Regions from separate parts of the Homo sapiens genome. Here region 2 is linked to region 1. A link means that fine-mapping ties the variant in region 1 to the expression of a gene that starts in the linked region. Tissue or cell type: whole blood. Region 1 holds a variant in brackets; the other region holds the start of a gene. All regions are shown on one strand. Distances are between the middles of the regions.

Region 1 (8,101 bases):
GTATTTTTAGTAGAGACGGGGTTTCACCATGTTGACTAGGCTGGTCTTGATCCTCCCACCTCAGCCTCCCAAAGTGTGCTGGGATTACAGGTGTGAGCCACCACGCCCAGCGATGCCAGGTGGCATTCTAAGCTCTGTACATGTATTGGCACATCTAACCATCAAAATAGCCCCATGAGGGTGGGACTGTTATGATCCTCATTTTAGAGATGAGGAAAACGAGGTTCAGAGAGATTGAGACACCTGCCCTAGGTCACAGAGCCAGGAAGTGACGCCACTCAGGCTATGCTTGCTCTGTTGTCTCACCTGTTCATCACCACCTGACGCGTAATCCAGGACTGTCCCCTCTCAGTCTCTCCCGCCCTTAAAATGTGTGCTGCCAGAGAACAGGATGCTTACTATCTCATTTAGAGCTGTGTGTCCCCAAGGACTAGACTAGTGGCTGAGGGTAGTGGGACGTTTATCAGTACTTGTTTTCTTTTCTTGTTGTTTTGTTGAGACCAGGTCTCGCTCTGTCGTCCAGGCTGGAGTGCAATGGTACAATCATACCTTACTGCAGCCTTGGCCTCCCAGCTCAAGCTATCCTCCCACCTCAGCCTGCTGGGTAGCTGGGACTAGAGGTGTGCCCCACCACGTCCACTTAATTTTTGCTTGTTTGTTTTGAGACAGAGTCTCACTCTGTGCCCCAGGCTAAAGTGCAGTGGCACGATCTCGGCTCATTGCAACTTCTGCCTCCTGTGGTTCAAGTGATTCTCCTGCCTCAGCCTCCTGAGTAGCTGGGATTACAGGCATGTGCCACCATGCCTGGCTAATTTGTGTATTTTTAGTGGAGACGGGGTTTTGCCATGTTGGCCAGGCTGGTCTCGAACTCCTAGCCTAAAGCAATATTCCTGCCTCGGCCTCCCAAAGTGTTGGAATTTCGGGCGTGAGTCACCGCGCCCAGCCTATAAGCACTTGTTAACTGGACTTAGAGAGATGGGGAATGCCTAGAATCTTCTGCCCCCTCTTCCCCAGCCCCACCAGGCCGCAAGGAGTCAACTCACTCGTTTTTTGTGCCCTTCTGCCCGCAGAACTCGCCCCGGCTGTCAGTGGGGTAGATCACCTTTCGAGGGTCTCCATGAGTCCAGGCTGTGGAAAGATCCAGGGATACTGAGACACTGCCACTCCTCAGATCCAGCCCTGTTCCCACTCCAGAGGCCATGGCTGCCTCCGCCTACCCTGCAACTCCAAGTCCTGCTCATTCTCTACTCACCTATGATGCCTACAGCCACGTAGCCCACAATGGCCAGGAGCAGGAACACACAGCATATGATATCCGTGCAGCCCCTGGGGAGCAGAGGGGCAGTGTTTGGAGGAGGCTTGGTGCTGTGTGCACCATGGGCCCATCTGCCCTCTGCAAACACCCTCATCCATGTGTTATTTGGACAAATTTTCCTGAGTCGTTTGAATGCCGTACCAAAGGGCACATGCATTTTAATTTTTATTTCATTTCATTTTTTAATTTTGTGCAACAGAGTCTCACTCCGTCATCCAGGCTGGAGTACAGTGGCATGATCATAGCTCACTACAGCCTCGAACTCCTGGGCTCAAGTGATCCTCCTGCCTCAGCTTCCCAAGTAGTTGAGACTACAGGTGCACACCACCACACATTTTTTTTTTAATTTATATACATTCTGTAGAGACAAGGTCTCGCTATGTTGCCCAAGCTAGACTTTTTTTTTTTTTTTGAGAGGGAATCTCACTCTGTCGCCCAGGCTGGAGTGCAGTGGAACGATCTCAGCTTACTGCAACCTCTACCTCCCAGGTTCAAGCGATTCTCCTGCCTCAGTCTCCCAAGTAGCTGGGATTATAGGTGCCCGCCACCATGCCCAGCTAATTCTTGTATTTTTAGTAGAGACAGGGTTTCACCATGTTAGCCAGGCTGGTCTCGAACTCCTAACCTCAAGTGATCCACCTGCCTTGGCCTCCCAAAGTGCTGGGATTATAGGTGTGAGCCACCGTGCCTGGCTGTATTTTATTTTTTTGTTATTTTTTTTTGAGACAGAGTCTCGCTCTTGTCCTCCAGGCTGGAGTGCAGTGGCGCAATCTCAGCTTACTGCAACCTCCACCTCCCAGATTCAAGCAATTCTCCTGCCTCAGCCTTCTGAGTAGCCTCTGAGTAGTCACAGCTACTGGAGAGGCTGAGACAGAAGACGTGCTTGAACCAGGAGGGGAAGGTTGCAGTGAGCTGAGATTGCACCACTCCAGCCTGGGTGACAGAGTGAGACTCCATCTCAAAAATAAATAAATAAATAAATAAATATAAACATGGTAAAAATTAAGTCCAGGCCAGGTGTGGTAACTCACACCTGTAATCCCAGCACTTTGGGAGGCCAAGGCAGGTGGATCGCTTTGAGCTCACGAGGTCGAGACCAGCATGGGCAACACAGCGAAACATCTCTGCTAAAAGTACAAAAAAAAAAAAAAATTAGCCAGGTGTGGTGGTGCAAGCCTGTAATCCCAGCTACTTGGGAGACTGAGGTGGGAGAATTGCTCGAACCCGGGAGGCGAAGGTTGCAGTGAGCCGAGATTGAGATCGCGCCACGGCACTCCAGCCTGGTGACAGAGCAAGACTCCATCTCAAAAAAAAAAAAAAGTTTCAAATATTTGTCACCAGTTTGTTGGAGAACAGATGGGAGGGGGTGTGAAGAGACAGGGATTGGGGTAGTATTAGCGGGGAGAACCCCCCAAAACCCAGAGCTCTTACCTATTGTAAATGGGTCCTTTGAAAGTGGGATCATACTTCTGTGGCGTTCCTGAAAGTCAAGAAGATTAAGATGGATGGGATTGGAGACCTGAACCAAGACAGGGCTGGGAGAGCCCCCTCCCAAAAGCCCCTAGGGGTGTCTTTGCCTTGGCAAGAATAAAATTCAGAGACCTGTGGAATTTTCTGCCTCACCCACCTCCAGGTGACCACACCCAAGCCCCCAGTTCTGGCAGGCCAGGACAGGGGAGGAAGGAGGGATCACTAACTGTGAACAAACTTATTAACTGGCGGCCACCCACTGGGAAGAGGGCTGAAATGGTGACCACCACGGAACCAGGTGGAGATGGGGAAGATCTGAGGTGGGATAGGGGGAAGGAGGCGCCGGCAGCAGTGCCAGGCAGAGGGGTACAGGGGCAGGTCCTTCGGGTAGGGGAGAGTAAGGAGGGTCGTCTGCGAGGCTGCGGGGGATAAGTGGGGTGAAGGGGCCTGGCTGATGGTGGGGAGGCTCCAGGCGCAGATTTGCAATTGCGCTCCCCCTCCAGCCCCCTTCCCTGCGCCCCATGTTCTCTCAAGGCCCCCTCCGAGGGACCGAGGGGTCGGCCCGGGGCTACGGGCGGGGGTCGCTGCCTACCGTGTTTCCCGTAGTAGTGGGGCCGCTCGTCCCCCATCCCTGCAGGCGACCAGCCCCGGCGGCCGCCCGCGCTCTCTCCCGCGCCCCCTCGACCCTCCCGAGTCTGGAG[G/C]GAGGCACTGACCGCGCGACTGGCGGCGGCTCCTCCCAGCACAGCGCCAGGCGGGGCGGCCCAAACCGGTCAGACCGGCCCGAGCTGGGCAGCTGCCCAGACTAAGGGACCCGGGAGGGCGCGGGCGGGGCTGCAGCTGCTCCCGCCACTCACCGGCCGGCCGCATTTAGCCTTCCCCGCCCCCACCCGGGAACCCTGCGGCTTCACCCTGGGAACACCCTGCCACCGGGCGATGCCGCCTAGAACCCCTGGCCACCCTGAAAGGGCGTTTCCGTGGCTTCGTTTTGCAGGTGTGGAAACTGAGGCACTGGGAGGGAAAACGGCCTACTGCCCAAACCCAGACAACCAACTGTGGAATGTTGGTGCTGAAAACTTCTCCAAGCTGTGCAGGAAATTAGTTTTCTTTCTGTCTGCTGCTTTTTTTTTTTGAGACAGGATCTCCCTCTGTTGCCCAGGCTGGAGTGCAGTGGTGCAATCACAGCTCATCGCAGTCTCGACCTCCCTGCCTCAAGCCATCCTCCTGACTAAGCCTCCTGAGTAGCTGGGACTACAGGTGCTCTACTGCACTCGGCTAATTTTTAATTTTTTTTGTAGAGATGGGATGTTGCTATGTTGCCCAGGCTCATCTTTAACTCCTGGACTCGTGGGCTCCTCCCACCGTGGCCCCCCAAAGTGCTGGGATTACCTGCGTGCACTACTGGGCCTGGTCTTAGAACAAGTATTTATTCAGCCCTTAGTGGGTGCAGGCCTTGGGCGGGGCACCGCATACAGTGAGGAACCAGAGAGACCCAATCTCCACCCTTGTGGAGCCCACATCCTCCTGGGTCGCCCTGAATTCAAATGCTCCTTCTGCACCCTCTGAACTAGAGGATACTTAACAAAGGGCTTATCTTCCTTAAGCCTCAGTTTCCTCAACTGCAAAATGAGGCTAAAGTATGAAACCAAAACTGACCTCAAAGAGCAGGCATAGGCCAGGTGCAGTGGCTCATGCCTGTAATCCCAGCACTCTGGGAGGCTGAGGCAGGTCGATCAGGATTTCTAAGCCAGCCTGGCCAACATGGTGAAACCCCTTCTCTACTAAAAATACAAACATTAGCCAGTGTGGTGGCACATGCCTGTAATCCCAGCTACTTGGGAAGCTGAGGCAGGAGAATCGCTTAAACCCAGGAGGTGGAGGTTGCAGTGAGCCAAGATTGCCTCACTGCACTCCAACCTGGGGGACAGAGTGAGACTCTGTCTCCAAAAAGAAAAAGAAAAAAGAAAATAGGCTGGGTGTGGTGGCTAACACCTATAATCCCAGCACTTTGGGAGGCCGAGGTGGGCGGATCATGAGGTCAAGAGATCGAGACCATCCTGGCCAACTTGGTGAAACCCCGTCTGTACTAAAAATACAAAAATTAGCTGGATGTTGTGGTGTGCACCTGTAGTCCCAGCTACTTGGGAGGCTGAGGCAGGAGAATCACTTCAACCCGAGAGGCGGAGGTTGCAATGAGCCGAGATCGTGCCACTGCACTCCAGCCTGGGTGACAGAGCGAGTGTCTCAAAAAATCAATCAATCAATAAATCAAAAATTAGCCGGGTGTGGTGGTTCATGCCTGTAATCCCAGCACTGTGGGAGGCCGAGGCGGGCAGATCACTGAGGTCAGGAGTTCAAGACCAGCCTGGCCAACAAGGCAAAACCCTGTCTGTACTAAAAATACAAAAATTAGCCAGGTGTGGTGGTGGGCACCTGTAATCCCAGCTACTGGGGAGGCTGAAGTAGGAGAATCGTTTGAACCTGGGAGGTAGAGGTTGCAGTGAGCCGAGATTATGCCACTGTACTCCAGCCTGGGCGACAGAGCGAGACTCCGCCTCAAAAAAAAAAAAAAATACAATACAATAAAAATAGAGACAGGATCTCACTGTGTTACCCAGGCTGGGCTCAAACTCCTGGCCTTAAGCAATCCTCCCACCTCAACCTCCCAAAGTGCTGGGATTGCAGGCACGAGTCACCACGCCACAACCTGCCTCTACTTGAATATTTATAGATATTTATAGTGCAGCCAATTATTTGGTTAACATGGCATTATACAGGTGGTGTGGAGGTATCCTCAGCAGGAATATACATTTAGTGCTGGGTGTACACAGACAGCATGAGGTTATACAGTCAGCGTGATCATATACATTTGGTGTCCAATAATTGTAGCTGCTGCCTTAGACTCTAGGACTCGCAGGCAGGGCTCTGGTCACTAACTCAACTTATCCTTAAAAAGGCGCCCTCTCCTCCTAGTAGCCACCAGCAGAGGGGCCCTGTCTAAACACCTGGACCACAGGCAAGGCCTGAGGCGCCAGGTCATGCCCTGGGGTGACCCAGACTCCTAAAGAAGCCCTGTGGTTCTCGAAGTCTCTGCCAGCCCAAAGGCTGGCTGGTCCCACCCTACCCATTCCAAGCAGTGGACAAAGAGAGCGAGCCACAGGCCTCTTCTCTTCCCAACTACACAGGGTGCCCTGGGGACAATTTATTCAGGCCCCACCCACCAGCTCCACACTGAGGAGTCCCAAAAGTTAAGCCCTCTGGAAACCCTTGTCTCTGAGCTGCACACCTATGTGACATCTGTCTCCCCCCAACACACGTGAGCATCTCATACTCAGTGCGGCGGCATCTAAGCTTTTTTGTTTTTGAGACAGGGTCTCACTCTGTCGCCCAGGCTGGAATGCAGTGGCATAATCACAGCTCACTGTAGCTTTGACCTCCTGGGCTCAGGCGATCCTCCCACCTCAGCCTCCTGAGTAGCTGGGATCACAGGCACGCGCCACCACACTCAGGTAATTTTTTGTATTTTTAGTAGAGACAGGGTCTCGCAATGTTGCCCAGGCTGGTCTGGAACTCCTGGCCTCAGGGATCCTCCCACCTCAGCCTCCCAAAGTGCTGTAATTATAGGTGTGAGCCACCGTGCCTGGCCTGTCCAAGCTTCTGATTATCCCATGACTCCGCTCCATCCTCCCACGTGCTCTGGCCAGGAACCTGGGCTGCCTCTCTGCTTGAGATCAGTTTTGCCTTCAGAGCTATCCAGAATCCAACCTCTTCTCACCTGCTCCTCAAGCACCCACCCTTTCACACAGCCCTGTCATCTCCTGCCTGGACCAACACAGACACTTTCTATCCTCACTATAGCGGCCAGAGACATCTGTGCACACCTAAGTCAGGACACATCCCTGCTCTGCTCAGAAACCTCCATGGTTCCCACCTCATTCCGAGGAAAAAGCCCAGCTCTTCGCCACAGCCCACAAAGCCTTGCATGACCTGCCCTGTCACCTCCCTGCCCTCACCTCCTCCCTCTCTCTCTCCATGGCTTACTCTGTTCAGCCTCACTGGCCTCCTGGGTACGTCCCACGCTCAGCAGGCATGGTCTGACCTCAGGGCCTTTGCACTAGCTGCTCGGTCCCTCTGCTTAGAATGCTCTTCTCTCAGACATCCATACAGCTCCGTTGCCTTCAGGCCTTGCCTGAAATATCACCTTGGCAAGGCGTGGTGGCTCAAGCCTGTCATCTTAGCACTTGGGGAGGCTGAGACAGGCAGATCACTGGAGGCCAGTAGTTCGAGACCAGCCTGGGCAACACTGTGAAACCCCATCTCTACTAAAAGTACAAAAATTAGCCAGGTGAGGCCAGGCGCAGTGGCTCACGCCTATAATCCCAGCACTTTGGGAGGCCAAGGTGGGCAGATCACCTGAGGTCGGGAGTTCCAGACCAGCCTGACCAACATGGAGAAACCCTGTTTCTATTACTACAAAAATTAGCCGGGGCGAGGTGGTGCATGCCTGTAGTCCCAGCTACTTGGGAGGCTGAGGCACGAGAATCGCTTGAACCTGGGAAGCGGAGGTTGCAGCAAGCTGAGATCATGCCATTGCACTCCAGTCTGGGCAACAAGAGTGAAACTCCGTCTCAAAAATAAATAAATTAAATTAAAAATTAGCCAGGTGTGGTGACACATACCTGTAGTCCCAGCAACTTGGGAGGTGGAGGTGGGAGGATCACCTGAGACCAAGAGGTCGAGGCTGCAATGAGCCAAGATCCTGGCACTGTACTCCAGCCTGGGTGACAGAGCAAGACTCCATCTAAAAGAAAACCCACAAAAACCAAAAAAAAAAAAAAAAAAACACCCAACCATCCCTTTCCTCTCTGTCCTATGACCTTTTCTTTTCTTTCTTTCATTTTTTTTTTCTTTTTTGAGGCAGAGTCTCGCTCTGTCGCCCAGGCTGGAGTGCAGTGGTGCCATCTAGGCTCACTGCAACCTCCACCTCCCGGGTTCAAGTAGTTCTCCTGCCTCAGGCTCCCAAGTAGCTGGGACTACAGGCACACACCAACGTGCCTGGCTGATTTTTGTATTTTTAGTAGCAGAGACTGGCTTTTACCATGTCTCTACTACTGGTCTCGAACTCCTGACCTCAAGTGATCTGCCCACCTTGGCCTCCCAAAGTGCTGGGATTATAGGCATGAGCCACTATACCTGACCCCTATGACTTTCTCTTTGTTGTTATTATCAAATAGAGTCTTGCTTTGTCACTCAGCCTGGAATGCAGTGGAGCAATCATAGCTCACTGCAGCCTAAACCTCCTAGGCTCAAATGATCTTC
Region 2 (8,101 bases), 37 kb after region 1:
CAGTGAGCCGTGTTTGCACCACTGCACCGCAGCCTGGGCGACAAAGCAAGTCCTTGTCTCAAATAAATAAAAAAAAAAAATAGGCTTCTGTAATTCAAGGGGCTGTCTTGAGGATTCCTGCATGGGCGACATTTAGGGCCACCCTCACTTATGGTGAGCACCATTTAAGCCAGAGTTAGTGTTACTAATAGTAATATTTGCATCCAGCAATATAGCAAAGCAGGCGGAAGCAGGCTGGGACCAGATTCTTAAATCCCGGGACTCAGATTCGAATTCTGGGTCAACTGCCTCCTGGCTCTGGGGCCGTGGGCTTGGGCAGGTGCCTTCACTTCTCTGTGTCCCTGCTTCTACCTTTATAAGATGGCACGAAGGAGACTTGTGCCAGATGATAACTTTTTATTTTTCATTCTATTTATTTATTTTCTTGAGACGGAGTCTCACTCTGTCACCCAGGCTGGAGTGCAGTGGTGCCATCTCGGCTCACTATAACCTCCGCCTCCCCAGTTCAAGTGATTCTTCTGCCTCAGCCTCCCAAGTAGCTGGAATTACAGGCATGCGTCACCACGCCCGGCTAATTTTTGTATTTTTAGTGGAGACAGGGTTTCGCCATGTTGGCCAGGCTGGTCTCAAACTCCTGGCCTCAGGTGCTCTGTCCACCTTGGCCTCCCAAAGTGCTGGGATACAGGCATGAAACATTGCTCCTGGCCCAGATGATAATGTTTTAATTAAAGTGCAGTGCTGCTGTCAATGTTGATGTTAATTTCAGGTGGAGAGGCAAGTGGATGATCCTGATAGCTGCTGTTCTCTAAGTCCCCACCTACAGGGGCTGATAAAGGGCTGGGCAGGGTTTGGGGAAAGGACAAGTGAGGTCTGGGTAGGCTGAGTCTTGTTCCCTGCAGGCCCTGCAGGACATCTCCCTCCCTCAGCCAAGCAAGGTGGTTCTAAGCAAGGCTGAGGTTTACTTTCCCTTTCCTTCTGCCCTGTCCTCAAAACTACCGCACTTTGGGAGGCTGAGGTGGGCGGATCACGAGGTCAAGAGTTCGACAGCATCCTGGTCAACATGGTGAAACCCCATCTCTAATAAAAATACAAAAATTAGCTGGGCATGGTGGAGTGCACCTGTAGTCCCAGCTACTTGGGAGGCTGAGGCAGGAGAATCGCTTGAACCCAGGAGACAGAGGTTGCAGTGAGCTGAGATCGCACCACTGCACTCCAGCCTGGCGACAGACTGAGACTCCATTTCAAAAGAAAAAAAAAAGGAAAGTCCAGGGGTGGAATCTGGGTCTGCAGCAGCTGGTGTGCACGAAACATGCATGGAGCCAGGGGCCATGCCAGGTATTTGGCTATGCAACTGCAGGAGAGGGCACCATGGCTGTTATACCCATTTAACATAAGAGGAGACTGAGGCACAGCAGGTGCATTCACCAGCCCATGCCTTATAGCCAGTGTGTGGTGGTATCAAAAATCAAACCCAGCATCTGTGCTCTCAACTGCTACATCATCATCCAGATCATCATCTTCATCCTCCTCCTTCTCAGCGACATGGTTGACAGTCAGCTACATCCAAGTTCCCTTCCAACACCACGTTGCACAGAATAACTCATTTAATCTGCACAAACCAGGCACAGTGGCTCAGACTACGCCTGTAATCCCAGTACTTTGGAGGGCCAAGGGGGGAGGATCGCTTGAGCCCAGGAGTTTGAGACCAGCCTGGGCAACATACCGATACACCATCTCTACAAAAAATGTAAAAATTAGCTAGGTCGGGCCGGGTGCGGTGGCTTACACCTGTAGTCCCAGCACTTTGGGAGGCCGAAGCGGGCGGATCACGAGGTCAGGAGATCCAGACCATCCTGGCTAACATGGTGAAACCCTGTCTTTACTAAAAGTACAAAAAGTTAGCCAGGCGTGTTGGCAGGCGCCTGTAGTCCCAGCCACTCGGGAGGCTGAGGCAGGAGAATGGTGTGAACCTGGGAGGCGGAGCTTGCAGTGAGTTGAGATCGCGCCATTGCACTCCAGCCTGGGTAACAGAGCGAGACTCCATCTCAAAGAAAAAAAAAAATTAGCTAGGTGGGCCTGGCCTGGCGCGGTGGCTCACACCTGTCATCCCAGCATTTTGGGAGGCTGAGGCGGGTGGATCACGAGGTCAGGAGTTCAAGACCAGCCTGGCCAAGATGGTGAAACCCCCGTCTCTACTAAAAATACAAAAAAAAAATTAGCCGGGCGTGGTGGCAGGCGCCTGTAATCCCAGCTACTTGGGAGTCTGAGGCAGAGAATTGCTTGAAGCTGGGAGGCAGAGGTTGCAGTGAGCAGAGATTGCGCCACTGCACTCCATCCTGGGCGACAAAGCCAGACTCTGTCTCAAAAAAAAAAAAAAAAATCAGCTAGGTGTGGGCCAGGCGCAGTGGCTCACGCCTGTAATCCCAGCATTTTGGGAGGCCAAGGCAGATGGATCACGAGGTCAGGAGTTCGAGACCAGCCTGGCCAACATGGTGAAACCCCATCTCTACTAAAGATACAAAAAATTAGCTGGGCTTGGTGGTGCACGCCTGTAATCCCAGTTACTTGGGAGGCTGAGGCAGCAGAATCGCTTGAGCCTGGGAGGCAGAGGTTGCAGTGAGCCGAGATTGTGCCATTGCACTCCAGCCTGGGCAACAGGACGAGACTCCAAATTAAAAAAAAAAAAAAAAATTAGCTAGTTGTGGCCAGGCGCAGTGGCTCACATCTGTCATCCTAGCAATTTGGGAGGCCAAGGCGGGTGGATCACCTGAGGTCGTGAGTTCAAGACCAGCCTGACCAACATGGAGAAACCCTGTCTCTACTAAAAATACAAAAAAAGTAGCCGGGCATGGTGGCGCATGCCTGTAATCTCAGCTACTCGGGAGGCTGAGGCAGGAGAATTGCTTGAACCTAGGAGGCATAGGTTTCAGCGAGCCGAGATCACATCACTGCACTCTAGCCTGGTAAACTAGAGCAAAATTCTGTCTCAAAAAAAATTAGCTGGGTGTGGCGGTTTGTGCCTGTAGTTCCAGTTACTAGGGAGGCTGAGGCAGGAGGATGGCTTGAGCCCAGGAAGTTGAGGCTGTAGTGAGCCATGATTGCATCACTGCAGTCCAGTCTAGGGTACAGAGTGAGACCCTGTCTCTACAAAAAAAGTTTTTTGGCTGGGTGCGGTGGCTCACGCCTGTAATCTCAGCCCTTTGGGACGCTGAGGCGGGTGGATCACCTGAGGTCGGGAGTTCGAGACCAGCCTGGCCAACATGGTGAAACCCCATCTCTATTAAAAATACAAAATTAGCCAGGCGTGATGGCGCATACCTGTAATCCCAGCTACTTGGGAGGCTGAGGCAGCAGAATCCCTTGAACCCGGGAAGCGGAGGTTGTAGTGAGTAGAGATCATGCCACTGCACTCCAGCCTGGAGTCTAAAAAAAAAAAAAAATTAGCTGGGCATGGTGGCGCTTGCCTGTAATCCCAGCTACTAGGGGTGCTGAGGCAGGAGGATTGCTTGAACCTGGGAGGTGGAGGTTGCAGTGAGCCAAAATCATTCCACTGCACTCCAGCATGGGCAACAGAGTGAGACTCCATTTCAAAAAACAAAAAAAAATAAATTTTTTATTTGAAATGAATAAGAGTAAATTTGTAAGAATAATAAAAGCAAGTACATTTGTCCTGCTCGGAATTATATCCACAGTTCCTGTTACTGAGTGAATGAATATTTCAAATTCAGTCAGTAAAATTCACCAGTGAAAATTATTATATGAATGAGTGAATGAATGAATTGGGCAAATTTTGAGCACCCAGTGCTGAGCACTAGGGACATAAACATGAACAAGACAAAGTCCCTGCTGTATGGGGGCTGACGTGTGTGGGTGAGACAGAGGAGAAAGAAGGTGAATGGATGGATGAATCAATGAGAGGATGAATGAATGGATAGATGGGTGGATGAATGGATAGATGAATAAATTAATGAATGCAAGAATGGATGGATGGATGGATTGATGAATGGATAGATGAATAAATTAATGATGCAAGAATGGATGAACGGATGGATGGATGGATGGATAGATGAATAAATTGATGAATGTTAGAATGGATGAATGGATGGATGAATGGAAAGATGAATAAATGAATGAATGCAAGAAGGGATGAATGAATGGATGAATAAATGGATGGATGAATGGATAATGGATAGACGAACAAATAAATGAATGCAAAAATGGATGAAGAAATGGATGACGAATGGAAGGATGGATCAATGAATCGATGGAAGATGGATTAATGAATGGCTAAATGAGTGGATGCGTGGATGGATTAATGAATGCAAGAATGAATGGATGGATGGACGAATGGATGGATAGATGAATGAAAGGAAGGATGAATGAATGGATGGAAGGATGGTTGATTGGTTTGGGGTCTCCACCCGTCATTACTCCTGGGTGGCTAGGGAAAGTGAAGGGGGGCAGCAGACCCATCTGAAGTCGCAGTACCTCTCCCGGCCCCGCAGCCATCTTCAAGTTGGCCGACAGCGCTGCTCACCTGGCCGCCTCCCCTTTAAGACGCACACACCTGGGCTCTCACCTGGGCGCAGGCGCTTCCGCAGGAAGAAGGAAGCGGCGCCGCCATCGCCTCCCGGCGCTCCCTCCCCGACTCCTAAGTCCTTCGGCCGCCACCATGTCCGCCTCGGCTGTCTTCATTCTGGACGTTAAGGGCAAGGTGAGGCTGGGCATGAGGAGTTGGGAGACGGACAGGTGAGGTCTCGCTCCCAGGGATTCAGGGGCGACCCCTCCGCGCGGGCCAGGAAGAGGTCTGGGAACACCCCCTCCCCCTGCAATCCCTGGGAATCCCACCTCCAGCATCCACTCGCCTTGTGCCTGAGGCCAAGGGGTTCGCCTCCTAGGGCCTCAGTTTCTCTGTATGTAAAAATGGGAGCAACAGAGGTCCCCACCCAATGAGAATTAATACAACTCGCTGCGTGTAAACTACTTAGCATAGTGGCCTTTCTGGAAATATTAGGGACTCAGCAAATTGAAATTATCTCCATCACTGTCGGCATCCACAGTGTTAATACCTGGGGAAGGCAACTGGAACAGGGGCCTCTAACTCCCCCCATCTGTGGCTGCCTTGCCTCTTCCTGAAGTCCTTTTATTCCTCTTGTCTTTTTTTATTTTGGAGACAGGGTCTCTTGCTGTCTCCCAGGCTTGAGTGCAGTGGTGCGATCATAGCTCACTGCAGCCTGGAATTCCTGGGCTCAAGCGATCCTCCTGCCTCAGTCTCCGGAGTAGCTGTGACTACACAGGTGCAGGCCACCATGCCTGGCTAATTCTTGACATTTTTTTGTAGAGGGATCCCGCTATGTTGCCAAAGCTGCTCTCAAACTCCTGAATATCTGGGGCTGCGGGCTGACCCCTCCATGCCCGGCTATTTTTAATTTTTTTTTTTTTTTTTTTTTAAATAGAGTCTTGCTCTGTCACCCAGGCTGGAGTGCAGTGGCTCCATCTTGGCTCACTGCAACCTCCACCTCCCGGGTTGAAGCAATTCTCCTGCCTCAGCCTCCCGAGTAGCTGGGACTACAGGTGCATGCCACCATGCCTGGCTAATTTTTGTATTTTTTTTTTTTTTCAAGACAGAGTCTCGCCTTGTCACCCAGGCTGGAGTGCAATGGCATGATCTTGGCTCACTGCAACCTCCACCTCCCAGGTTCAAGTGATTCTCCTTCCTCAGCCTCCTGAGTAGCTGGGATTACAGGCGCGCACCATCACGCCCGGCTAATTTTTTGTATCTTTAGTAGAGATGGGGTTTCACCATGTTGGGCAGGATGGTCTCAATCTCTTGACCTCGTGATCCGCCCACCTCGGCCTCCCAAAGTGCTGGGATTACAGACATGAGCCACTGCGCCCGGCCGCACCCGGCCTATTTTTTATTTTTATTTTTTTGTACAGATGGAGTCTTGCTATGTTGTCCAGGATGGTCTTGAACTCCTGGTCCCCAGCTATCCCCCTGCTTCAGCCTCCCAAAGTGTTCGGATGACAGGTGTGAGCCACTGCAGTCAGCCTGTCTTGTCATTTAATAGCCAAAATAAGAGTGGTGGTGAAAATAATATTCCCATTAATATTAATAGTGAGAGCTAAGATGTTTGAGAACCTGCCATGGGTCCTCCCTGTTCAGACACTGGACAAAACAACCTTAGGAAGTGGTTAACTAATTTTTTTTTTTTTTGGAGATGGAGTCTCGCTCTGTCACCAGGCTGGTGTGATCTCAGCTCACAGCAACCTTCACCTCCTGGGTTCAAGTGATTCTCATGCCTTAGCCTCCTGAGTAGCTGGGATTACGGTCATGCGCCAGCACACCAAGCTAATTTTTGTATTTTTAGTAGAGACGGGGTTTCATCATGTTGGCCTGGATGGTCTCGAACTCTTGACCTCATGATCCACCCGCCTTAGCCTCCCAAAGTGCTGGGATTAAAGGCGTGAGCCACCGTGTCCAGACAGAAGTGTTTACTATTATGGGTGTCTTCCTGACTACCAGGCACAATCATATGAACTGTCATCTTTCTTTCTTTCTTTCTTTCTTTCTTTCTTTCTTTCTTTCTTTCTTTCTTTCTTTCTTTCTTTCTTTCTTTTTTTCTTCTTTCTTTCTTTCCTTCTTTCCTTCTTTCCTTCTTTCTTTCTTTCTTTTCTTCTTTCTTTTTTTGACAGGGTCTCACTCTGTTGCTCGGGCTGGAGTGCAGTAGTATGACCACAGCTCACTGTAGTCTCGACCTCCTAGGCTCAATTGATTCTTCTGCCTTAGCCTCCAGAGTAGCTGTGACTACAGAGGTGCAGGCCACCATGCTCAGCTAATTCTTGAAATTTTTTGTAGAGGGATCCCGCTATGTTGCCAAAGCTGGTCTCAAACTCCTGGCCTCAAGGGATCCTCCTGCCTTGGTCTTCATGAGTGAGTCATTGCACCTGGCCTCTTCTTTGTTTTTTTTTTTTGTTGTTGTTGTTTTTTTAAATAATCCCACTTTGGTGCAAATGAAGTCTGGGGCAACAGCAGGGATTCTGGACCCAGGATGCCTTAGATCAATCCCCAGTTTCCATATGCTTCCAGTGGACATGGTTTCTAACCTCACTTCTCCTGTGTGAAATGGAGATGATGATAACATCTACCCCACAGGGTTGTGGCAAGAACTAATAAGTTAGTAAACATCTACTCTTTTTTTAGTAGCCAGCCTGCCTGCCTACCTTCCTTCCTTCCTTCCTTCCTTCCCTCCTACCCTCCCTCCTTCCCTTCCTCCCTTCCTTCTTTACTTTCTTTCTTTCTTTCTTTCTCTCTTTCTTCTTTTGAGATGGAGTCTTGCTCTGTCGCCAGGCTGGAGTGCAGTGGCACGATCTCGGCTCACTGCAATCTCCGCCTCCCAGGTTCAAGTGATCCTCCTGCCTCAGCACCCCGAGTAGCTGGGACTATAGATACACGCCATCACGCCCGGCTAATTTTTTGTATTTTTAGTAAAGACGGGGTTTCACCATGTTGGCCAGGATGGTCTCGATCTCTTGACCTCATGATCCACCCGCCTCGGCCTCCCAAAATGCTGGGATCACAGGCGTGAGCCACTGCGTCCAGCCATCGCCTACCCTTTAATAAAACACAGCCTGGCACTTAGTGAGGGCCCTAGACCCATTAGCTGTTGTCATCACACTCCCATTTTACAGAGCAGGAAACAGGCACAAGGAGGCAGAGCCTTGCCCAAGCCCCTCAGCTAGGAAGTAGGGTCAGAACCGGGCACTGTGCCTCCTCAGCGTGGTAGGTTCTTGGATGCTGGTGGTGACCAGGTCCTTTCCTTCCACCCTCAGCCATTGATCAGCCGCAACTACAAGGGCGATGTGGCCATGAGCAAGATTGAGCACTTCATGCCTTTGCTGGTACAGCGGGAGGAGGAAGGCGCCCTGGCCCCGCTGCTGAGCCACGGCCAGGTCCACTTCCTATGGATCAAACACAGCAACCTCTACTGTATCCACCCCACGTGGTGTCCCTGGAGGTGGGTGTGGGGGCTGTCGGCGATGGTGGCAGCTCAGGCCAAGAGAGGGTGGGCTGAGGACAGGAGTTGCACCGCACATCTCT

What was found. PIP is the estimated chance that this variant, and not a neighbour inherited with it, causes the effect.
Region 2: it holds the start of AP1M2, and the variant in region 1 is fine-mapped to the expression of AP1M2 in whole blood (TOPMed, PIP above 0.99).

Annotation. Positions count from the first base shown.
Region 1 is chr19:10,620,947-10,629,047 of GRCh38, reverse strand. SLC44A2 (solute carrier family 44 member 2 (CTL2 blood group)) reads right to left here and starts at 3,495. Exons shown (of 22, transcript NM_020428.4): 1 at 3,378-3,495; 2 at 2,747-2,795; 3 at 1,253-1,326; 4 at 1,044-1,128. The coding sequence starts at 3,414. RefSeq lists an enhancer at 4,456-5,037. The variant G/C (reference allele first, on the strand shown) is at 3,487.
Region 2 is chr19:10,583,803-10,591,903 of GRCh38, reverse strand. It overlaps AP1M2 (adaptor related protein complex 1 subunit mu 2), which reads left to right and starts at 4,592. Exons shown (of 12, transcript NM_005498.5): 1 at 4,592-4,714; 2 at 7,834-7,990. The coding sequence starts at 4,673. RefSeq lists a silencer at 724-924.